Homo sapiens: one gene and its partners. The protein of the gene in region 1 purifies or fractionates together with the protein of each later gene. This does not show direct contact. Each region holds a gene or a part of one and is shown on either strand. Other genes may lie near its edges.

Evidence for each region. The genes of interacting proteins can lie anywhere in the genome.
Region 2: the proteins of DCAF4L1 (region 1) and CUL4A purify together in Homo sapiens (affinity purification with mass spectrometry; 5 studies listed by BioGRID and IntAct, with this or other methods). This does not show direct contact.
Region 3: the proteins of DCAF4L1 (region 1) and CUL4B purify together in Homo sapiens (affinity purification with mass spectrometry; 4 studies listed by BioGRID and IntAct, with this or other methods). This does not show direct contact.

What each region holds. Positions count from the first base shown.
Region 1 is NC_000004.12:41,977,007-41,985,440, reverse strand, and holds the start of DCAF4L1 (DDB1- and CUL4-associated factor 4-like protein 1), read right to left. Parts: upstream 3,686-8,434; 5' UTR 3,649-3,685; coding exon 2,458-3,648; 3' UTR 1-2,457.
Region 2 is NC_000013.11:113,212,503-113,220,341, forward strand, and holds part of CUL4A (cullin-4A), read left to right. Parts: intron 1-6,442; coding exon 6,443-6,546; intron 6,547-7,839. UniProt on the Homo sapiens protein: Core component of multiple cullin-RING-based E3 ubiquitin-protein ligase complexes which mediate the ubiquitination of target proteins. As a scaffold protein may contribute to catalysis through positioning of the substrate and the ubiquitin-conjugating enzyme.
Region 3 is NC_000023.11:120,529,234-120,537,072, forward strand, and holds part of CUL4B (cullin-4B), read right to left. Parts: intron 7,802-7,839; coding exon 7,694-7,801; intron 6,711-7,693; coding exon 6,597-6,710; intron 5,354-6,596; coding exon 5,248-5,353; intron 3,362-5,247; coding exon 3,189-3,361; intron 1,022-3,188; coding exon 869-1,021; intron 1-868.

The DNA of each region.
Region 1 (8,434 bases):
CTTCTCTTTTAATTCCCAACGTCACTCCACCTGATCTATTTTATTTTAACCATTATAGTGAAAGTGGTGTGGCATTGTGGTTTTAATTTGCATTTCCTTGACAATAAAAGAAGTTGGATGCCTTTTCAAATGTATATTAGCCATTTGGATCTCCTCTTTTTCTCCTATTCAAGACTATTGCCTCCCTTTCTTTTAGGTGTGTTTTTCTTACTGATTTTTTTTTTGCATTTGTTTTCTTTGCAAATGAGGATAAACAGTTTATCAAGTTATGTAGTCATTTTTTGTCAATTGCCAAATAAATGACATATCAGTATCAGACATATATATATATACATATATATGTCTGCAGCTAGTTCTTACTGAATGATTGCAATGTCTTTTCTTCATTAATTGTTTTGTTTTATTTTGAATGCTTACAATGTAAAAGGGACAAGATACATATCCTTTAACCCTGTATCTACTTTATCATTTAGTTTTATTATCTAAGACATTTTACACTGAAGAAACAACAGCAAGTAAAGCTTACACAATTTCTCATGTCACATATCAAGTTAGTATAAAAAACTGACTGAAAGGATTCCAAAAATCTGTGCCTAACCATACTCCCATATCTTCTCTATTGATCTACTCATCTTCTATCAATATGTAATTACATTAACCTCATCTATGTCATATAAAGCACATCTATCCCATCTATTTTAATTCTATGTATTGAAGTCACCAAATTTGTATTACCAGCCATGACATGACCCCTGATCTGCAGAATACTTTGTATCTCCAATTGGAGGTTTAGTAGATGTCTAAAACTCAGCATCATTCCCTTCACCTAAAGTTTTTTCTCCTCATCCTCCCCAGGTTAGTAAACGACACCATCATCTACCAGTTCTAAAGTTAACAAAAAAGCTGCCATCCTCAGAGCTTGCAGTGAGCCGAGATCGCGCCACTGCACTCCAGCCTGGGCGACAGAAGGAGACTCCGTCTCAAAAAAAAAAAAAAAAAAGCTGCCATCCTTTTTTCTTTCACTTTCTAGTTTACTCTCATCAGCAAGCCTTATCAATAATACTACCTTCGAATGATCTTCCAATGCAATCATTTCTGATCATTTCTACTTCTCACACATGCAGGTCCAAGGCATCATTGTCCCTTGCCTAACTACAATAGTGTCCTAATTGCTTATTTTTATTTTTTGAGGAATAACATATATACAGTAAACTATAAAAACGTGAAGCATATAGATATATGAATTACGTATGTATCAAGTGTCAAGATAAAGAAAACTCAGCATTCCTAAAGCTTCCCCATGTCACTTCTCAAACATCCTAAAAAGAAAAAGAAAAAAAAATCCTTTCTTTCTACAGAGGTACGTACTACTCTACCTTTAATCACCATAGACAAGTTTTTACTGCTTTTGAACTTTAGAATTGAATCATACAGTTTGTACTCATTTCTACCTAATTTCAGTCAACATGTTGAGATTGGTCCATACTGTTTCACATAGCAAGTGTGCCTTATTTTCTATTATTATGCAGTATCCGATTGTATGATTATATCACGAATTTTAGCATTTTCGAAATTCAGATCATTTCCAGGCTTTGGCTATTAAGAAGTAGCAACTAACCTTATTACACGTTTTTTTTCTTCCTTGCTTAGTAGAAAAACAGGCTCTTTAACATTTTTAATAAATCTCTCACAAACTGCTGCTCCTAGATTACAAAAAGTCAAAGCCAATTCCTTGAATCTGAACTTCAAGTCACCATAATAGAAACCGGAGCTGCTGTACCTTACATTCTGAAAGGTACCTCAACAAAAGCACATCAAGGACTGTTTAAAACTTCTAGTATTTAAAAAGATCCATCTTTCCTTCCAATGCCTATGGATGATAACAATAAAAGGAGAACCTTAAGAGATCTGCTATTGAGTTTGAGAAGGCCAAATTTAATGATTCCAAACTCCAGCCTTAAATATTTCTGTAGAGACTCTGAGAAATTACCTCTCCCTTGTCTCCACTCCCACTGGCTTCCTCAAGCGCAGATGCCTGGGACCCTGTATGATTAGTCAAACAGTCTTACCAGTACCATCATTATGCTTCTCTAAAGGGCTACTAGTGAAAGAAGCTGCTTTAATTTATTTTAGTTTTTGCCAATCTTCAGTCCTTAGAAAAGTCTTAATTATTTAAAAAAAAAAAGGGTTGGGGAGGTGGTTAACTGTTCTAAGGCATTCAACAAGAGGAAACAGGTACCTTTTATGAAAAGGACTTTCAAGTTAAGTCCACAGTTTAACTGAAATAACTTTACAAGAACGTCTCCACATAAAACTCTTAACACCTTACCCCTGGCAGCCGGATGGATGCGATCTATATACAACACGTCTCTTAAAATGCTCTCACAGAAACGGTAATAAGATACTCTTAACTTCCTTAAGTCAAATCCACATTCGGCCGCGCTGCCACCTGCAGAATTAGCTGAAGGGGAAACAATAAAGGTCCTGCCGGACAGCCATGAGCAGCCCTGGTGCTGCTCCCCGGATGCCCCCGAGCCGAGAAGCGAAGGCCACGCTGGGAATGTCGTCCTCGGAGGCAGAGTACGGGGAAGGGATGGTTCTGAGCAGGTGGGCATCATGGAGGCTCCAGATTCTCGTGTAGCAGTCCTGGCCCACTGCCACCACGATTCCCTCTTCCTCGTGCACATGCAGGGGCAGATAGGCGGACTCATTCACGTGACCTTCGTACTGCCTTACACATTTAGTGGCCCTCAGATCCCACAGCTTGATCTTTCCAGTCATGTCTGATGCCATCAGGCATTGCTCTTCTTGGAGGATTTGCACAGAGGTCACTGCTGAGTCATGGAACAGGCGAGTGGCCCTCCACCCCTTGCCTCGATTTCTACAACGCAGATCAATGGCAAAGATCTCCCCGGAGCGACAGCCATTAAACAGCAAAGGAGCCGTACTAGCAAACTGCTGGGCCAAGACATCACTGCTGGTATCAAATGACTGCTGGTGTCCCGTCGCCACGCTGGTCAACAGGACCTGCTGAGACAAGCCTGCACTAAAGCAGTGATATGCCCGGGTGTTGAGGGACCACGCACAGGACCAGGCCTCTGGGATCTGGAAACTGCAGAGCATGCCAGGCTGGTTAACTCTTGTGTGAACACTTAAGAACCGCGACGCTGGGAGCAGCACTGCACAGCTTGGAGCATCTGTGATTCCCTCGAAGCACAGCAGAACGTGAGAGTCCAACTGGTTCAGCGAGGCCCAGCACAGGGACTTCACCTTCCGGTTGGGGACGTAGAGGTTTCTGAGCACGTACACGTGGAACGAAGGGATCTTCAGAGTTCGCAGGCTGATGATGCCGTACTTGGAGCCTTCGACTTCGACCTGGTTCACTACGAAGAGCTGGTCGCTGTTGGTACTCGCCAGAATGAAGTTAAATCGGTCGCTCGCCAAAGAGGAGGGATCCAAGCTCCGAATTTGGACCTTTTTCCGCTCCATGCAGCTCACACGCAGCTCGTTGGCTAAACGGGAGTAACTGGTGACGTTGAGGAAACCTAGCTGGCTTTTTCGGAGCATGGAAGATGCATTAAATCCCATTCTGGCTACCTTTTTCAGCTTGGCCTCTTCCTCGAGGAGTCGCAGCCTTTCAGCCTCCATTTCCTCCTGCGGAATGTTCCTCGTGACAGGAAATTCTGCAGGATGTTCTTCTCCGTGACAGGATGTTCTTTTCCGTGACAGGAAGTTCCGTCCGGGTGCAAGCGGAAGTGTTGCTACTTTTTATCCTCTCTATTCTAGGAGGAAGTCCATTGTTACAGATGTGTATTACAAATCTCTTTTCCTACTCTGTGGGTTGTCGTATTCTCTCAGTGGTGTCTTGATGAAAGGAAGTTCTTGATGTTAAATTTTTTCCTTTCTCTTTTTGAGACAGGGTCTTGCTCTTTCACCCAGGCTGGAGTCCAGTGGCACGACCACGGCTCACTGCAGCCTGGAACTCCTGGGCTCAAGTGATTCTCCTACCTCTGCCCTACTTAGCTGGGACTATGGGCTCACAACACCATGCCAGGCTACTTTTTTTGTAAAGATGGGGTCTCCCTGCTTTGCCGATGCTAGTCTGGAACTCTTGAGCTCAAGCAGCCTGTCCGCCTCAGCCTCCCAAAGTGCTGGGATTACAAGCATGAGCCCACGCGCCCTGCCTGTATTTCTTATTTTTTTATTTTTTATTTTAAGACGGAGTCTCGCTCTGTCGGCCAGGCTGGAGTACAGTGGCGCGATCTCGGTTCACTGCAAGCTCTGCCTCCCACGTTCACGCCATTCTCCTGCCTCAGCCTCCCAAGTGGCTGGGACTACAGGCGCCCGCCACCACGCCTGGCTAATTTTTTTTGTATTTTTAGTAGAGACAGGGTTTCACCGTGTTAGCCAGATGGTCTCGATCTGCTGACCTCATGATCGGCCCGCCTCAGCCTCCTAAAGTTCCGGGATTACAAGCGTGAGCCACTGCGCCCGGCCGCCTGTATTTTTAAAATACAGTTAGAGACCAGCCTGGGCGGCATGGTGAAACTTTGTCTCTAAAAAAATACAAAGATTAGGCCGGGCGCAGTGGCTCACGCCTGTAATCCCAGCACTTTGGGAGGCGCAGGCAGGCGGATCACGAGGTCAAGAGATTGAGACCATCCCGGCTAACACGGTGAAACCCCGTCTCTACCAACAATTAAAAAAATTAGCCGGGCATCGTGGCGGGCGCCTGTAGACCCAGCTACTCTGGAGGCTGAGGCAAGAGAATGGCGTGAACCCGGGAGGCGGAGCTTGCAGTGAGCCGAGATCGCGCCACTGCATTCTAGCCTGGGCAACAGAGCAAGACTCTGTCTCAAAAAATAAATAAATAAATAAAATACAAAAATTAGCGGGGTATGGTGCACACCTGTAGACCCAGCTACTCAGGAGACTGGGAGGGAAAATCACTTGAGCCTAGGAGTCTTGGAGGGAAAATCACCTGAGCCCTGAAAGTTGAGGCTGCAGTGATCACCCCACTGCACTCCAGCCCAGCTGGGAGACAGAATAAGACCCTGTCTCAAAAAGAAAGAAAAATAAGTAAATAAATTATGAATTTATCCAAATTGTCCATTTGTTTCATTAATGGTTAGTGTCTTTCATGTTCTGTTCAGGACATTAGTACCTATTACATGATACTAGTAAAGTTTTGGGGTGTCTTCAAGAGGAGGCTGATATCTCCAGTCCCCATCTGGATGTTTCCTTTGCCACAAAGCTTGCTGACTCCCCTTACGCTATGAATTTCCAGGAATTTTGGAGGACTGGGGAGAGTTGGTAGGGACTACAGAGAAATCCGGTGATATCTGGACTATGGATCCTGTCGGAATCTACAGGCCCCAGAGCTGGGATCACAGAGAGCACAGGAGATTGAGGCCCACACACTTGCCATGGAACATAACATGGGACAAGGGATTTCTATGTATCAGAAGAATGTGTTTCACCACTGCCAAATGGAAGTCAGCTGACAGATGCAGAAGTCTTGCAAAGGGCTATCAAAGCATAGAGGACTGCTTGATACTGAGTTATCAGTGGGGCTGTTAGGAACCCCATATATTCTAACAATGACCTACAGAAAGCAGATAGCAACATGGCGGCAGTCAGACATTTAAGGCATTGCCTGTTTTCCTTCTTAAACCTCCTGACCCCACCATCGGAAGAGCAGGCACATGGAAAAAAAGGGGTGTGTATAAAGAAAGTTGGAACTACGGGTCTAGTCTGCTCTGGAAGGCATGGAGGAAGTTTTTGAAATAAATATGAGACTAATATTTTAAATCAGTAGGACCTAATCTTAATACCTAGAATGAAAGTTTTAATAACTAAGGAGGCTGATACTTTGAAGCAATGAAATCTGACAAAATACCAAGTGTAGAAATGATGAGACTTTCAAGCTTATGCCTCTTGAGGTGAGATTCTCAATCAAACTGATTACACATCTTTGTCTACCCTAGTATACTGTGGACATCTTTAGACAGGGATTGTTTCTTATCCATCTTTCTATCCTTACTGTCTAGTGTATAATATAGTACATGGGACATAGGATATAGATAAGTGAATGAAGGAATGAAAATTATAAGAACTACATGTTTAATTCTCCTTTATTTCATAGGCTCCTTCACTGAGAGGAATAAGGGATTAAGGTTATTTCTGCAAAATCTATCCAACTTCTACTCTACAGGGAGAGCTTTCAATCTATTTCCACTTCTTTTTTTCAATTTTTAATTCCCGTGGATATATAGTAGGTGTATATATTTATGGGGTACACGAGATGTTTTGATACAGGCATGTAATGTGAAATAAGCACATCAGGGTAAATGGGGTATCCATTCCCTTAACCATTTATCCTTTGAGTTACAAACAATCCAATTACACTCTTTAAGTTATTTTAAAACATACAATTAAGTTACTATTGACCATGATCACCCCGTTGTGCTATCAAATAGTAGGTCCTATTCGTTTTTTGTGTTTTGTGTTTTTTTTTGTGTGTGTGTGTGTCTTGCTCTGTTGCTCAGGCTGGAGTGCAGTCGTGCGATCTCGGCTCATTGTAACCTCTGCTTCCTGGGTTCAAGTGATTCTCCTGCCTCAGCCTCCCGAGTAGCTGGGACTACAGGCTCCCGCTACCATGCCAGGCTAATTTTTGTATTTTTAATAGAGATGGGGTTTCACCATATTGGACACACTGGTCTCGAACTCCTGACCTTGTGATCCGCCTGCCTCGGCCTCCCAAAGTGCTGGGATTACAGGCATGAGCCACCACGCCTGGCCAGTCCTATTCATTATTTAACTTTTTTTTTTTTTTAACTCATTTACCATCCCCACCTCCCCCTTCTTTTCTGATTAACTAACTTTCCTTCCCTCTCAATAAACATATAAATCAACCTTCTAGAAAAAATAAGTCTCCTTAAATGCTACATGACTTTTTATCTACTGTCTTAAAAAATTATTTCAGCCTTTAGGATTCTTTCCTTCTCTTTTAGGAATTTACATACTCCATTCCCACCATGCCACTCCATTTCCTTCATCCACCATCTCTTCCCATTTCTCCATAGAAGAAATTGGAAACGTTCCCCATAACTCTCACAACTCTGCCCCTCAGGTCTTACCCCAGCTCAAGGTCCCATACTCACCCTGCCCAACCACATCGTGTGACCTTTGCAGCAGTGGTTCTCATCCTGGGACAACTGTTGGCAATATCTGGAGACATTTTTAGCTGTCACAACTGGATACTACTGGCATCGAGTGGGTTGAGGCTGGAGATGCTGCTAAACATCCTACAACACATAGGGCAGCCTCTTACGACAGAGAATTATACCCCAAAAAACTCCTCTCCTCAGAGTTAAAATTCAGAACTGTGTATAAAAGGCAAGGCTTACCAGCTTCCACCATGTGTGTGTGTGTTTTAAATTCCTAAATCTTCACACATGCCACATGCCTCTTAATACTGACCGTTTTTCCCATCCCCCACCTCTGTTCATGTCTGAAGCCACTTCCTCACTTTAGCATCACTGTTGTGAGTCACAGAGAGAGGAACAAGAGGCAACATTCCTCATCTTTTTACTCCAATATCTATACAAGACGGATAGGGAGGTAAAAAGATAAACAGGGATAGATTCCTACTCTATTCTATTCTGAGCCTCTTGCAAAGTCATATTCCAAATGCTTCAGATAGGCTTCACTGCAGCTTATTTATTCTTACCAATTTCACTATACTTTTTCCCAATATCTCCAACATCCCTTTTCTTGTCTTTGAGAAGCTTCCTGGAAATAACTTTTGTCTGACATGAATCTAAACGTATTATATTTCTGTGACATTTTACACTAATTATTGCTCTTTCTAAAAATACCCAGGCCTTTACTTTTTAGCCAATTTTTTTGTTGTTGTTGTTTCTAAAACAGAAGGTGAACTGGGTCAATTCAGGTATTAATTTTAGCTATGCCATATCAACTTCTGGACACAAGCAGCTAAAGAGAAACTGGAATGGGAAGAAAATTCCATTCCTGCCCTGTTTCCTGGTTAGGAAGGAGCAGACTTTAGAGAAGGAAGGCCAAGCATGGTTTGTAACAGGCTGAAAACATGCCCTTGAAAGCTGAGGCCTCAAGTGTGCCTGTGAAATGGTAAACAAACCCGGTAATGGTAAATGAGCCATGGCTTTGGCTTATTTGCAATAAGGAACAAATCAATTGAAGTATTTCATATTCCTCTCAGAAGAGAACCATAAAGAGCCATGAGACTTCCCAAACAATTGGGATAAATGGGAGAATTTAATAAATAGAATGAAACAAACAGAAGGAAATAAAAAAATGAGCAAAATGCTTTTTAAAAAGCTAAAAACATTTTAGAAAGTGTGAGAATAATAATTACTAAACCCACATGTCTGTAACAAATGAATTGCAATGA
Region 2 (7,839 bases), on another chromosome or scaffold:
TCGGGTGCAGTGGCTCATGCCTGTAATCCCAGCACTTTGGGAGGCCAAGGTGGGTAGATCGCCTGAGCGTCAGGATTTTGAGACCAGCCTGGCCAACATGGTGAAACCCCATCTCTACTAAAAGTACAAAAAATTAGCCGGGCGTGGTGGCAGGCACCTGTAATCCCAGCTACTTGGGAGGCTGAGGCCGGAGAATCGCTTGAACCCGGGAGGCGGAGGTTGCAGTGAGCCGAGGTTGTGCCACTGTACTCCAGCCTGAGCAACAGAGTGAGACTCCATTTCAAAAAAATACAAAGAAAAGTCTAGAGTCAGTGTTTTCCCTGCAAATGTCCAGTTTTTCAGTCTCTTTTCCCCTACTGAATTGCCTTTGCTCCTTTGTCAAAAACCACGTAGGAGTAGGAGGAGTGAGTTGTGAAATCAGGGTGTGTTGGCCCCCCAGCTTCATACATTTGCACAGGTTTCTGGCTATTCTTGGTCCCTTGTGTTTCCATGTGAATTTTAGAATCGGCCAATTTGTATAAGAAAGTGTGCTAAGATTTTGATTGACGGTATATAGAATCTACAGATCAATGTAGGAGAATTAAATTCTTAACAGTATTGAGAGTCTGGGCTCAGTGGCTCACACCTGTAATCCCAGCACTTTGGGGGGCTGAGGTGGCCTGATCGCTTGAGCCCAGGAGTTCGAGACCAGCCTAGGCAACATGGTGAAACCCCATCTCTACAAAAAATTTAAAAATTAGCCTAGTGGGGTGTTGCATGCCTGTAGTCCCAGCTACTCAGGGCCCCCACACCACAACCTGGAAGCTCTTCACACAGGAAGCTGAGCAGTTGGGGCCTGTTTGTCTCCCATCTTTCTGAGATTCACTGTCTTTCATAGCCCAGTACTCAGTGCTTCGAAAACTGTTGCTTCGTATATTTTGCCTGATTTTGTGGTTATTTCAGGCAGAAAGTTAATACAGTTCTTGTACTGTGTCTTGACTAGAAACGAGTCCCACCTGAACTCTCAGAGGTCTTTGGTTTAATAAAATATGATACCTTACAGCTAAAGCTTCTTACTACTCTTTTCCTGGAGATTTGGCTGTCTGATATCTGCTGCCTCATTATTTTTACTTAAAAAGGCGGAATTACTTTGCAACACCTTGTACACAGTGATATGTCTTATAAAACAATCACTAGATATTATGAACAATGTTTGTAGGTGCCTTAGGTGTCTGTCTTGAAACCCTGAGAACTAGGAGTGCTTACCCCAAAATGACAGTCACTGGTTCCTCCTTGGAATGAGACATCGCAAATTCCAGGGGCATCTCTGGAGGTGCTGCCCCACCAGGGGATATGTGGAATCAGTTGATTCACTTACTTGTGATCATCTCTCCACGCACAGGTGGGCTTCTGGCCTCTCACAGAGTCTGAAGCATGAGCTGCCTCAGATCTATTGGAAGCAAATGGGATAGAAATCTAAGAAAAGCAAATGTGAAATTACTGATGTCTGATCAAGCAGGCAATACATTTGACTTGGTGTTTCAAAATAAAGTCTCAGTTTTTGTATAGGTGGGGTGGTGTATACTTTGCCAAAGAATCTTATGTGAAAGGACCAATTCTCACCCAAGTTTGAAAGGTTTGGTTTCGTGTTTGGTTTTTGGTTTTGCTCACTCTCCCTCTACGTCTAAACACCTTAGGAGTCCTGTCACTTACACTTTTTGGGCCTCAGCTGGCCTGTTGTTTCTGTTTGTTACTTTGTTTTTATCATTTTCCTCCTGTAGTGTGTAGAGGAGAATGTTGTGAAGGCATGGATCTTTTCCATTGAACGACCTGAATTTCGGTCTGTAATAACTAACTCCTGAAGAAAGTGCATCTTCTGTGTCTTGTGTCTCTATGTTTTAGTCCTGCTTGTTGCTAAATGAGACAACAGAAAACTGAAGACTGCATTTCTAGAAAGGTTTCAGAGAAAGGCTGTGTTTTGATTTAGAACTGGTTTTTTTGTTTTTTGTTGCACAAAAACAAACCTCTCAGGCCCTTTAAAAAAAAAGAGAGAGAGAGGTGTGGCCTCCCTATGTTGTCCAGGCTCCTTGGGAACTCCTGGACTCAAACAGTCCTCCTGCCTTGGCCTCCCGAAGTGCTGGGATTCCAGGCGTGAGCCATTGCACCCGGCTGACATGCAAGTTCTGAGGAAAGCCAGGCTGTCTTTCTTGAGTCACGGAGTAGTTGTCTTCATGACATGTTGATACCAGGTGATAATGGTCAGTGAAAGAGAGAGGTTAGTCCTTTGTATTAGGTGGCATCCTTCCCTCACACCCAAGCTGCAGGCCCAGCGTAGGAATGGGACCTCCACAGCCACACAGGTCTCATCCTGTGTGGCTGTGAAGGTCGCTATATGACTCTGGAGGTAGCTATGTGACTATGGAGGTCTCGTCCCGTGTGGCTGTGGAGGTCGCTGTGTGACTGTGGAGGTCACGTCCCATGTGGCTGTGGACATCTTGTCTGTGTGGCTGTGGAGGTTGCTGTGTGACTATGGAGGTCTCGTCCTTTGTGGCTGTGGACGTCTTGTCTATGTGACTGTGGAGGTTGCTGTGTGACTGTGGAGGTCGCGTCCCGTGTGGCTGTGGAGGTCACTGTGTGACCATGGAAGTCGCGTTCCGTGTGGCTGTGGAGGTCGCTGTGTGACTATGGAGGTCTCTCTCGTCCGTGTGGCTATGGAGGTCTGTGTGGGAGTATGGAGGTCACATCCCGTGTGGCTGTGGAGGTCGCTGTGTGACTGTGGAGGTTGCTGTGTGACTATGGAGGTCGCTATGTGACTATGGAGGTCGCTGTGTGACTATGGAGGTCTCATCCATGTGGCTGTGGAGGTCTCTGTGACCATGGAGGTCACGTCGCATGTGGCCGTGGAGGTCGCTGTGTGACTATGGAGGTCACGTCCCATGTGGCTGTGGAGGTCGCTGTGTGACCATGGAGGTTACTGTGTGCCTATGGAGGTCGCTATGTGACTATGGAGGTTGTTGTGTGACTATGGAGGTCTCGTCCATGTGGCTGTGGAGGTCTCTTTGTGACTATGGAGGTCACGTCCCATGTGGCCGTGGAGGTCTCTGCGTGACTGTGGAGGTCACGTCCCGTGTGGCTGTGGAGATCTCTGTGTGACTATGGAGGTTTCATCCATGTGGCTCTGAAGGTCTCTGTGTGACTATGGAGGTCGCGTCCCATGTGGCTGTGGAGGTCGCTGTGTGGCTATGGAGGTCGCGTCCCGTGTGGCTGTAGAGGTCGCTGTGTGACTATGGAGGTCTCGTCTGTGTGGCTGTGGAGGTCGCTGTGTGACTATGGAGGTCGCGTCCCATGTGGCTGTGGAGGTCGCTGTGTGACTATGGAGGTCTCGTCCGTGTGGCTGTGGAGGTCGCGTGTGTGACTATGGAGGTCTCGTCCATGTGGCTGTGGCGGTCTCTGTGTGACTATGGAGGTCTCGTCTGTGTGGCTGTGGAGGTCTTTGGGTGACTATGGTGGTCACGTCCCATGGTCCCATGTGGCTGTGGAGGTCGTGTGTGACTATGGAGGTCTCGTCCACGTGGCTGTGGAGGTCTTTGTGTGACTATGGAGGTCACGTCCCATGTGGCTGTGGAGGTCGCTGTGTGACTATGGAGGTCTCATCTGTGTGGCTGTGGAGGTCTTTGTGTGACTATGGAGGTCACGTCCCATGTGGCTGTGGAGGTCTCTGTGTGACTATGGAGGTCATGTCCCACAGCTCCATGGCCTTCCTTGTTCTGTCTTCCACATCTGAGAGCAGGGATTGCCCTTATCCGCAGTGAGCATTTTGTTTAAGTAGCAGTGAGTTCACTCCAGGCAATGCTTTGACACTATAAATAGACGTGTATTTGACATTCACACACGTGTCTGTTGAGCTAATACAGACAATCATTTGATGAACCTGCTAGTTAGGAAGTAGCTGTGATGTGAGAAGAGACAGTGCTGGCTGTAGATATACACCAAATTTCCTCACTTGGCTGTTGATACAAGGAAAGCATCTTGATACTAATAGGAGTAGAATGCAAATGATACTTCTCTACCTCCGATCATTGGATTACATTCCTTTTCTCTGGGGTGAATCTTTAAAATGCTAATGGCCTGAGTGCACCAACATGAAGCACACAGTACCATCTGATTAGTTGCTTTATGCATCCAGAGAGGGTATTTCTAAATCTCAAAGTATGATTGAGTGTCAAAAATCCATTTGGGGGAGGGGCAACTCCTGTGTTGTGCTGCTTCTATAACAGCACAAAAAAGTCTTCCAGTATGTTCCTGCCAGCAAGGAGTTGGCAGGGCGGGGAGAAACAAAGGCTGTCGCCTTTCCAGTGATGAGTGCCTGTAATATGAAGCCGGGAGTCCTGACTCAGCACCTACAGCAAACCTGGGTTACCCAGGGCTTGCCACTTGTTTTGAGAGGTTCTTAAATTCTTAATTTTAAAAACAAAGTAAATTGCAGTATGACTCATATGAATAGTAAATGTGCACCAAATAGGACACATAGGAGGCAGAGTGGGTTATAAAATATTTAGTCATTTGCCACAACCAGGAAAAGATGGTTTTAAGGATATTGGTTCTTGGTCTAGGAATTAAAACATCCAGAAAATGGTCCTAAGTTACTGTTGATTTTTGCTGAAGAAAATACATTTTCTTCATGTGTTATATAAAAAACTTACTTTGTAATAATTATGTTTGTGGGATTCACTAATGTTTAACTACTGGAGCAAAACCTTTGTCGTAAAGTTCTCTTGGTTGTTTGAGGAGACAAAAGGATGGCAGATCTTTGACCAAATTATGAAGATATGGAATTCAAAGGGATGGAATTGAAGAGTTTGAGAAAGGAGTTAAAGTAAATACAGAATGTGGGTAGGAATTCCGTTTCTATAGTAAGACAAAATGTAGGGGGAAAGTTTGTATTTCTTTGTTATTATGCTGATAATAAGCTTGCTAGAAAACAGGATTATAATTAAAAACAGGATTATAATTATTCCACATCCTCTTTTGATCTTTGTAAATATGCATGTATTTTATATGGTAGTAATCACTGTATGTATTTAACTTTGGTTAATATGTAGCAGCTCTCCGATATTTAGTATTGGAATTATTAATACTTGTGTAAGTATTAGTAAAATGAATAGCTTTATAACTTTAATTTACCTTTTTTCCTAGGGGTATATTGTATCCTAATTAAATTCAGATTATTTATCTAAAGTGTTTTTATTCTGTATATCCCCACATTTTTCGAACCCCACATTGGTTCAAAACTTGTTAGAAAAACCATATTTCTGTTTATAATATTTCATATTGGAATTGAATGAGTTTAAGTTTTTGTACCTAAGATTGGAAAGGAAATTTTATTAGAACTGGTAAGAATGTACAAGCATTGTTTCTTTGAGGTGAGTAAAAATATTGTGAGAAAAAATTTTCTGCTTCAAAAAATGGTGTCAGCTGGGCACGGTGGCTCATGCCTGTAATCCCAGCACTGTGGGAGGCCGAGGCGGACAAATCACCTGAGGTCAGGCGTTTGAGACCGGCCTGGCCAACATGGCGAAACCCCTCCTCTACTGAAAATACAAAAATTAACCTGTGCGTGGTGGCAGGTGCCTATAATCCCAGCTACTCGGGAGGCTGAGGCAGGAGAATCGCTTGAACCCGGGAGGTGGAGGTTGCAGTGAGCCAAGATCCTGCCTTTGCACTCCAGCCTGGGTGACAGAGCAAGACTCCAACTCAAAAAAAAAAGATTTCTTCTTGTATTAGGGGTGTTCACAGAATAAAAAAGAAAGTTTATTAATTAAACAAACTGAAGTGAATTACACATCTAGCCTGCAGAAAAATAAATAGGAAACAATACAGTCTGGCCTGTGTCACCCAGAAAAAGCTCAGTTTGGATTGAATCACTGCCCTGGGGAGTGTGAGGGGAAGGCCCAGCCTGTTGTTCTCCTTCCTGATGGGAAGGTGGTCACTGAGGGAAAAGATTTTCTTGGTTCTCTAGCCCTGATTTCACTTTGTAATCATCAAGGTGAACTTAAACACAAACACACTCCAGTGACCCCCATCTCAGACTGAGGAATCGGAGCACCCGGAAACAGGCCTGTGAGGATCAAACCTGTTGAGAAGTCCCAAGTGACTGGGCACCATAGATGCTCAGGAGTGGTGCAGGCCAGCTGCCTGGGACCCGAGGTCCAGCAGGTGCAATGTGCCCACATTAACTGTTGTTACCTCTACCCCCATGCCAACTATGACTGGACTGCAGTGTTCCAACGAGAAGTGCCCTAAACTTAGCCATAATAAGTAATTTATTTGTAGATTCCTGAAGTACTGGGGTAGGGTGTGGGGTGCCTTTTTCTTATGATTACAGCTATGTTAACAATAGGGTTTTTTTATGAACCAATCTGTTGTTCATACTGAAGAATTGATGTAGCCCTTTTGTTTGCAGGCTGTGGAAAATCTCTGTTCTCACAAAGTCTCCCCAATGCTCTACAAGCAACTGCGTCAGGCCTGTGAAGACCACGTCCAGGCACAGATCCTTCCGTTTAGAGAATATCCTTTTTTTGGTTCATAAAGTTTCTATTCATTATCTAAGTCTTTTAAAACTGAACATTATTATGATAAAGAGCTAATGAGTATCCTTAATATTAAAACAACAGCTTTTAAAGTTCTCTTTTATTTGATAGGTTTGTAAGCGAAATTTACCATTTAAATTATTTTGCTGATTTGAATTAAAGGGAAACCGTGTTCATTTATTGGGTATGGTTGAAGTATTTAGGAAATGTTCTGAAAAATGTCTTCAAGTTTGAGTATCCTTTATTCTAATAAACACCATCTGCATTGGCTTTCTGTGATAGGCAACAAAGTCCCATCGACTTGGCGACTTATGGAGACACCCACTTATCAGCGCACAGTTGTGTCTGTCAGGAGGCCAGGCAGGATTCAGTGGATTCTATGCTCAGTCTCACGGGCAGAGTCAAGGTGTCAGCCAGGTTGGGGCCTCACCTGAGGTCTTTGCTAGCACGGGCAGGCAGTTGGCGGAAGCCAGTTCCTGTGGTAGTGGGACTGAGGGCCCTGCCTTCTGTCCCGTGTTGCTTGGTGTCACTCTCAGCTCCACATGCACAGGTCCTTGCCTCTCCTCTCACAGCACGACTCTTTTCTGCTTCTAGACCAGCAGGAGAATCTGCCTGTCTGACCTGCTGAGATAGGGCCTTATATGATGTAACCCGTAACCCAGTCAAGGAATGATGACCTTCGTATTCACAGCCTCGTTCACAGTTGCGTGTGAGGCATCCTCCACGTGGGGACAGGGCAGGAGCATCTCAGAATTCTGCTGCCACACCAGCTGTGACTCAGACGTCTACAGGGGAGTCTCTGGGCTCCTTGGCATCCTATAGAAAATCCTTTAATCTGGACTCAATCTCATTCCCCAGCCTCCTCCCAGTACTGTAGCTGTCCATGTGTCTCATTGGGTAGGAATTAGAAAGTAGAGTTTATAATTGCAGAAAATCTACTTGTGGCTGTACTTTTCTAGGCCTCCGTTTCTTCATGTGTAAAATTAGGTGGTTTGTGTTTGCTTATTTCTAAGTGTTCTTCTAGTTCAAGGAAACTTCTGCTCCCCCATCTCCCTGATCTTGGGAAACTAAACCATTCTGAGTTCATTGGAAGGGTCCTCAGGGAATCTGCAGCAGTTGGTGCTGCTGAAGTTGAAGCACGTGACAGGGAAGCTGAAATGCAGGGTGAGAGGTCTCTGTTTAGACAATCTCCACAGCACCCCGCACAGATGTGAGTGAAGTCGGTTCCAGCTCTGTTGTGCTGGCTTCTGTAAATACGCCTCTGCAGTGT
Region 3 (7,839 bases), on another chromosome or scaffold:
TTGGAGAAAAGAAAATGCTTACCTTATTAGAACTAAGAGCTACCGAGTGCTTATTATGTACCAGGTCCAGTGCTAAGATTTTTACATTCATGATCTCACTTAAACCTCACAATAATCCTACAAGGTAAGTACTATTATTATCTCAGTTTTACAAAAGAGGAAACAAGATCAGCATGGTGAAGTGATTTATGAAAGTCCAAAGCTCATAAGAACCCTAATAGCTAGCAGTCTATTCAAACTCTATCAATGTTTATCATCCAAGGGTTTGGCTATCTACCTCCTAAAACTTGGAAAAAAGGCCAGTACAACATCACATTAAGTGACTTTATTATTGGTCATTCACAATGGAACGTTTCCATTTAATGACCAATTTCAGTTTACCAGAACTATCACTACACTTTTCAAAAAGATGCTTAATCATGACTAGTTATCTGTATGGTTTTTAACAGATGATCTCTTATATAAGCTAACTAAACAGGAGATTTAACTCAATCCACAATAACTAAATCTGTCAAATACCATGGTATTTCAATAAATACCATGGTATTTCAAGAGGAAAAGAAGTAAATAACCAACCAAGAAGTTCAAAAGAAATATAGTGAATAAACTTGAAAATTTCAAACACTCATTTAGCAGTTAAACTTTCAGGTATCCAGGCTTTTCTGTTATTTTTCCCTTTTGTCACTGCTGCCCACATATGCCAACAAAGTTTTTTTTTTTGGAAATCATATGCATCAACATGGGAAATTAAAACTTTTCTCTCTCTAAATGGTCATGACGCTTTATGTTTGCAAGATTTGTGTCTGAAAATCTAATGTACTTTCTTTTATTTATAACACGCTCAATAGGAAAACACAGAAGTACCTACCTTTACTGGAAATTTCAACTGGTTGTACACTTCTGAAACAAGGAGATTGTGGCTAAGTGTCTTTCTCATCTTCATAATTCGAACAATTGCAGCATCAATTTGATACTGTCTGTCTTGAAATACTCTTTCTGTAGTGCTTGCTTGTTCTTCAACCTAACAAAAAAGTTTTAAACCTAGGAATTATACCAGAAGCAAAACCTGACTATTTACATAAATTGTGCATTTTAGGGACATGACATTGTTATTGCTTTAAAGGTACTGAATTATCTAAATGGGGTCTTATAAATATAGATGCTGACAGAGAAAAATCCTACAAACATAACTCCTTTCTGTTCTGATTATATTGCCCTATACCAATGAAGTAATGCTAATATTAGTTAATAGAAAAACATCATCTTTGAATTGCTTTTCTAGAAGTAGAGATAGCTGATGTGGAATTTACCATTTTGTTTTTTTACTCTGTCTTTGATATATCTTCTAAATGTGTGTATCAGTTTCAATGGATTGTTAACCAGATTTCTCTATGACAATAGCTTGTCTATAAGGTGACTCTGTCTGATCTCTGACTCAAGGCATGGTATTAACTGGCTAAGCAAACTAGTTAAGAGTCAACCTCTTTGAAAATTAATTTTTATTTTGTAATATATAAATCAGACATGCATGCCATTAGTGCTTACAATCCTTCAAGACTTACAGAAATGTAGGTATTTAGGAGGCGGTTTACCAATCTTGATGCTAAAGTAAAAATGTTCATCTTTAGTAATTAAACCAAAAAAACAGTTTGGCCTTTTTGCAGCAGTTTCTTCCTGGTACAGCATAAATGTTTTAAAAGTAAGGACATGGTAATCCTTTAAGAAAATATCCTGTCTTTGATGTGTATGTGAAAATGACAGGAACTTGTTTGGAGATACTGGTCGCTGTCCTACATTAAAATTTTTTCAGTCGGGCTCAGTGGCTCACACCTATAATTCCAGCACTTTGGGAGGCCGAGATGGGCGGATCATGAGGTCAGGAGTTCAAGACCTGCCTGGTCAATATGGTGAAAACCCATCTCTACTTAAAATACAAAAATTAGCCGGGCATGGTCGCTCACGCATGTAGTCCCAGCTACTCAGGAGGCTGAGGCAGGATAATCGCTTGAACCTGGAAGGCGGAGGCTGCAGTGAGCCAAGATCGTGCCACTGACTCCAGCCTGGGTGACAGAGTGAGACTCCACCTCAAAAAAAAAATTTTTTTTTTTTCAAATATTGCATTAAACCTTATTGGAACTGAAACCATCAGTTTCAGGATGCTGCAGTTGGAAGTCTCTTACAAATTCAAATGGCAAAAACAAACAAAATATTCACCTTCCCTGTTTTTGTTTTTTTTTTCTTTTTTTTAAACAGAGTCTCACTGTCACCCAGGCTGCAGTGCAGTGGCGCGATCTCAGCTCACTGCAACCTCCACATCCCGGGTTCAGGTGATTCTCATGCCTCAGCCTCCCAAGTAGCTGGGACTACAAGCACGCACCACCACGCCCAGCTGATTTTTGTATTTTTAGTAGAGACAGGGTATCGCCATGTTGGCCAAGCTGGTTTTGAACTCCTGACCTCAGGTGATCTGCCCGCCTCGGCCTCCCAAGGTACTGGGATTACAGGTGTGAACCACCGTACCTGGCCCACCTTCACTGTTAATCAAATAAATAGTGAATAAATCAATTCAGATTTTTCACCAAGCAAGTTGGCAAAAGAAAATATAATCTTTAGTGCTGGGGGACATAGTAAGACAGGCTCTCATATGCTGCTGGACAGAGTATAAACTGGTCCAGCCTTTCCGGAACACAATATGACATTATGTACTAAGACTCCTAAAATGTTCATACCCTTTAACCCAAAAAAATCTACTTCCACAAATTTATCATATATCAGAGATTAAAATTTAGTTTCAAAGAGGTTTCTTGCAATCTTATTTATAATACTAATAAGTCATGAATTTAATTGCCCCAAAATGAACAGTGGTTGAACAAACTATAAGAGCCATGTAAAAATATTACACTGCCATCTGCCATTTTTCGAAGCTATTTAATGGCATGGAAAAATTCTAAAGATTGAATACTAAATAAACAAAGTAAGATATGAAACTATGTTGAGTATCATCTCAATCCTGTACAACCACTCTCCCAAACACCCAAAATCAAATCAGGAAACATATTTAGCTGGACATAGACACAAAAAATATTAATGGTATTGGCAGTATTACAGGTATAAAAATCTTTATATATTTTGATTATTAACATGTATAATTCCAGTGTGTTAGGACTAAGAGAAAGTGAAAGAAATACCGTTTCTTTCATCTGGATTTGATTGATCTTTATCCTGAAAAGTTTATGTTTGAAATCATCATTACAAATGAACTTGTCACCATCTTCAATGTCTTTGCCCTTTGGATTTTTCGCCAGAACTCTAGCTTTGCCACAGGCTAATGACTGCAGTGTTCTCCTTAACTCTCCATCCTCTGAAGAAGAAACAGAGGTTTAGTTATTTGTTACCAGCATGAACAACTACGACATTCTACCTCAATCTAGCTTCCACTCCATCCCCCTATTAAAACTATTTCATTTTTTCCCAAAGGTCACCAACAACTTTTCTTTGTTCTAGCCAATGGCTTTTTTCCTAGTCCTCTTCTTTTTTAAAAAAAATAGAGGCGGGGTTTCACCATGTTGCCCAGGCTGGTCTCAAACTCCTGAGCTCAAGTGATCCACCCGCCTTGGCCTCCCAAAGTGCTGGGATTACAGATGTGAGCCACCACGCCCGGCCCCTAGTCCTCTTTTAAAGACGTCAATTATCATACCATGTGGGCAACTACCAAATATTCCAAAATGACATTTCACTTCTCTCCAGTTGCACGTTTAAAGGGCAATTCCGCCTGGCTGTTTTACTATCAACTGTAGTTACGTCCAAAATTTGATTCATCATCTCCATATAACTGTGTCCTCTTTCCAATTGTCAGTGGTGATACCACTAACCTTCTCAGTTGGGAAACCCTAAAATCATCTTTTAACTTTTCCTTCTCCTTCATCCTCAACATAATAGCTAGCCGCTGCTTCCGCAGAGATGAGTTTTCTCCATTTTCATGGTCTCATTCTAGTCTAAGTCCCTTCTACTTTATGCCTGAATCATCCCAATAGCATCTAAACTGGAATCCCTTGATCCTTCCAGTTGCCCTGTAGATTGATTTCAGTAAGTGGTCCAAATAATTACTTCCACCATGCCACATAGTTGAGACACTACAGTGTAGGTTTCATTTGCTAGACTTATCAGGTTCTCCACAATCAGGCCCTACTCATCTTACCTAATTTTTTAACTCACTATTCTATGTTACAATTAAGCTCTTCATGATTCTTCATGATTCTATGCTACAATTAAGCTCTTCATGGGCCTATACTGTGCCCATTCCTACCTCCCAACCTCATCTCAAAATATTTCCCCTTGCTGTATATGCCTTCTCCCTGACCAAAACTTGAAGGCCCAGCTCAAATGCCACTTGCTTCATGACAGCTTTCCCAATTGTGCCAGTCCACGGTGATCTCTTGCTTTGTTGCACTCTTACCACACTTATAGTCAGTACCACAAGCCAGTACTTATGGGTTTTGACATTATTTCAAGTGTCATTTCCCCCTTTCCCTATGGTTATATAAAGAGTTCTGGCCAGGCGCGGTGGCTCACACCTGTAATCCCAGCACTTTGGTAGGCCGAGGCAGGCGGATCACGAGGTCAGGAGTTCGAGACCAGCCTGGCCAACATGGTGAAACCCCGTCTCTACTAAAAATACAAACATTAGCCAGGTGTGGTGGCAGGCGCCTGTAATCCCAGCTACTCGGGAGGCAGAGGCAGGAGAATTGCTTGAACACAGGAGGCAGAGGTTGCAGTGAGCCGAGATCGCGCCACTGCACTCCAGCCTGGGTGACAGAGCAAGATTCCGTCTTGAGGGGAAAAAAAAAGAGTTCTGGCTGGCTGCAGGGGCTCATGCCTGTAATTGCAGTACTTAGGGAGGCTGAGGCAGGAAGACCCCTTGAGCCCAGGAGTTTGAGACCAGGCTAAGCAACATAGTGAGACCCTGTCTCTACAAAAAAAAATTTTAAAAATTAGCCAGGCACGGTGGCATGCACTTGTAGTCCCATCTGCTTGGCAGGCTGAGGCAGGAGAATCACTTGAGCCTGAGCCATGATTGTACCACTGGACCCCAGCCTGGGTGACAGAGTGAGACCCTGTCTCATTAAAAAAAAAGAAAAAAAAAACTCAAAACAGTTCTGAGGCAAGGAATTATTCCTATAAATATGTCCCCCAGACCTCTTAACATAGTGGTGTGCACATAGTGAACAATTAATGTTTGCTACAAACCTATTCCAGTTGCCTGCTTGATCTCTTCTAAACTGAACTCCTCTCCCTCATTAAACATTAGCAGCACCAGTGTTTGAAAAAGAGAGACCTGGAGTTCCTTTTTACCCTGTTGAAGAAATAAAAGTGTTTAGTCATCACTTTTTTAAAAACACATGAAAAATTAATCATCTCTTATAGGAAAAGCATTTTTCAATTAGTGGATTTAGAAACATGATTAGCATTATCCAGCAAAGCCACTTGACGTGGTAATACAGTATTTCAGTGTGAGGTTTAGGTGTGACCCTACCTAAAATAGGGGGAAGGATTAGCTGACCTTTTAACAGTTTTTTTTTAAGCCTTATAAATAGAATACAGTAATGAAAATTAATCAGCCTTATGTGTCATTCTAGATATTCATCACAAGCAGCAAGAAATCACTATTTCAAATGTATTTTTGATTTGTTTGGCTCAGATTAGTCATGAAAAGCTAAAGTTTTTTGAGATTAGATATTGCACACTGTTTCCCTTAACTCCCACTCTATTCGTAGCTCCCAGCAACAAGATTTCTGTCAAGAAGTGGCAGTGTTAGACTAAGTGTAGTTGCTCATGCCTGTAATCCCAGCACTTTAGGAAGCGGAGGCAGGGGGATAGCTTGAGCCCATGAGTTTGAGGTTACAGTGAACTATGATTGTGCCACTGTACTCCTGCCTGGGTGACAGAGTGGGACCCTATCTCTAAAAATAAACAAATAAATAAAAATAGGAAGTGGCAGTGTACAGTTTTCATCCACAGGTGAGGAAAGGGTAGGGGGAAAGTTCACTGCTTTTCATTTTGCAGAAGGGCCAAATCAATCGTGGAAAGACCACACACCTAAAATTACTTAAAAATACATAAAGCTATGACAAACTATCACTGTCATCATGCGGATATCTAGGATACAATTATAAAACAACAGCTTAAACTGGCCAGATGCGGTGGTTCACACCTGTAATCCCAGCACTTTAGGAGGCCGAGGCGCGTGGATCACAAGGTCAAGAGACAGAGACCATCCTGGCCAACATGGTGAAACCCCGTCTCCACTAAAAATACAAAAAAAATTAGCTGGGTATGGTGGCGCACGCCTGTAGTCCCAGCCACTCGGGAGGCTGAGGCAGGAGAATCACCTGAACCCAGGAGGCAGAGGTTGCGGTGAGCCAAGATAGCGCCACTGCACTCCACTCTGGTGACAGAGTGAGACTCTGTCTCAAAAAAAAAAAAAAAAAAAAAAAAGAAGAAAACAAAAAACAATAGCCTAAACTTTCAGTTAAGAAGGATGACCTAAACATTAAAGATAAAGATGAAAACTAAAAGTTTTGGGAACATCCACTTACCTCTTTAAATTCTGCTTTTAACACACAGTGTCCTAGGGTTGACTGCCACTGAAGTTTCCTGCCACTATGTTTGCCTAGGTAAAATGTCTTGAAAATCTCCTGAAGTTTTACCATCTAAAGTAAATAAAATAAGGCTTTATTTAAGCTCTGTATCCAATACCACATTTACCATTTTTATACTTACCTCATGTGATATAGTTTCTGGAAAATTTTAAGACTATATCCAGTAGGTCCACCAATCACTTTGATGAAAAACAATGATCTCCCAACCACCAAATCAAATGGGATTTATTAGGATTTATACCTTTTGCTCTCTCTGAACATTTAATCATCCCCTCTTTTGAAACATTCACCTGCAGCAGCTTTTGTGCCTCTGCACTATGCTGCTTCCTTTATTTCACTGTTGCTTCTGCATTGGTTTCCTTCACAGGTTCCTCTTTCTACCATCTGCCAAATGTGAGCCTTTTCTAAAGTTCTGCCTCTGCTGTTTTTTCTTCCTCTTTGAGAGAAATCTACTCCCTGGGCCTTCATAATCATCTCCATGGAGGATTCTCAATATCTATCTGTCTAGCCTTAATCCCTTTTATGGGCTTCAGTCCTGGACTAGACAGTTTACCAGGAGTCAGGATAGATTTAATCAAGGACCCATCATTTAGCAATCCCACCTATGGGTGAAATATGTGCAAGAATTCTTAATAGCTAGGTAGAGTGAGGGGTATAACCTGGGAAGATGGAAGAAGAGCCAGGGAAATTGACCCTGAACCCAGAAATTTGGCATTATTAGCTATGTGCTTAACTGGACTTCTAAGTACAAAAGTAAAACATTAAAGCAGTTGGTATTTGGTGTTGGTGCGCTTACTGACATACACTTTTAAAAGTATCCATGCCAAGCCTGGTGACTTACACCTGTAATCCCAGCACTTCGGAAGGCTGAGGCGGGGGGGATCACTTGAGCCCAAGAGTTCAAGACCAGCCTGAGCAATACAGCGAGACCCTGGGTCTCTATTTTTTTCTAAGTATCTATTTTTAAATGACAAGCAAAATGGAAATGCTATGATTTCTATGCCTATAACTCAGTTCTAAACAGTAACTCTTACCTCTGGTGGTAAATGAACTTCCATAGGCACATATGTCGGCCAATAGCCCATTGTCAGGATATTCACAGTTAACTCAATATTTCCCGGAACATTCTGATTCTGCATATACTATAAGAAGATCAAAACACACACTGAGATCTTAAAAC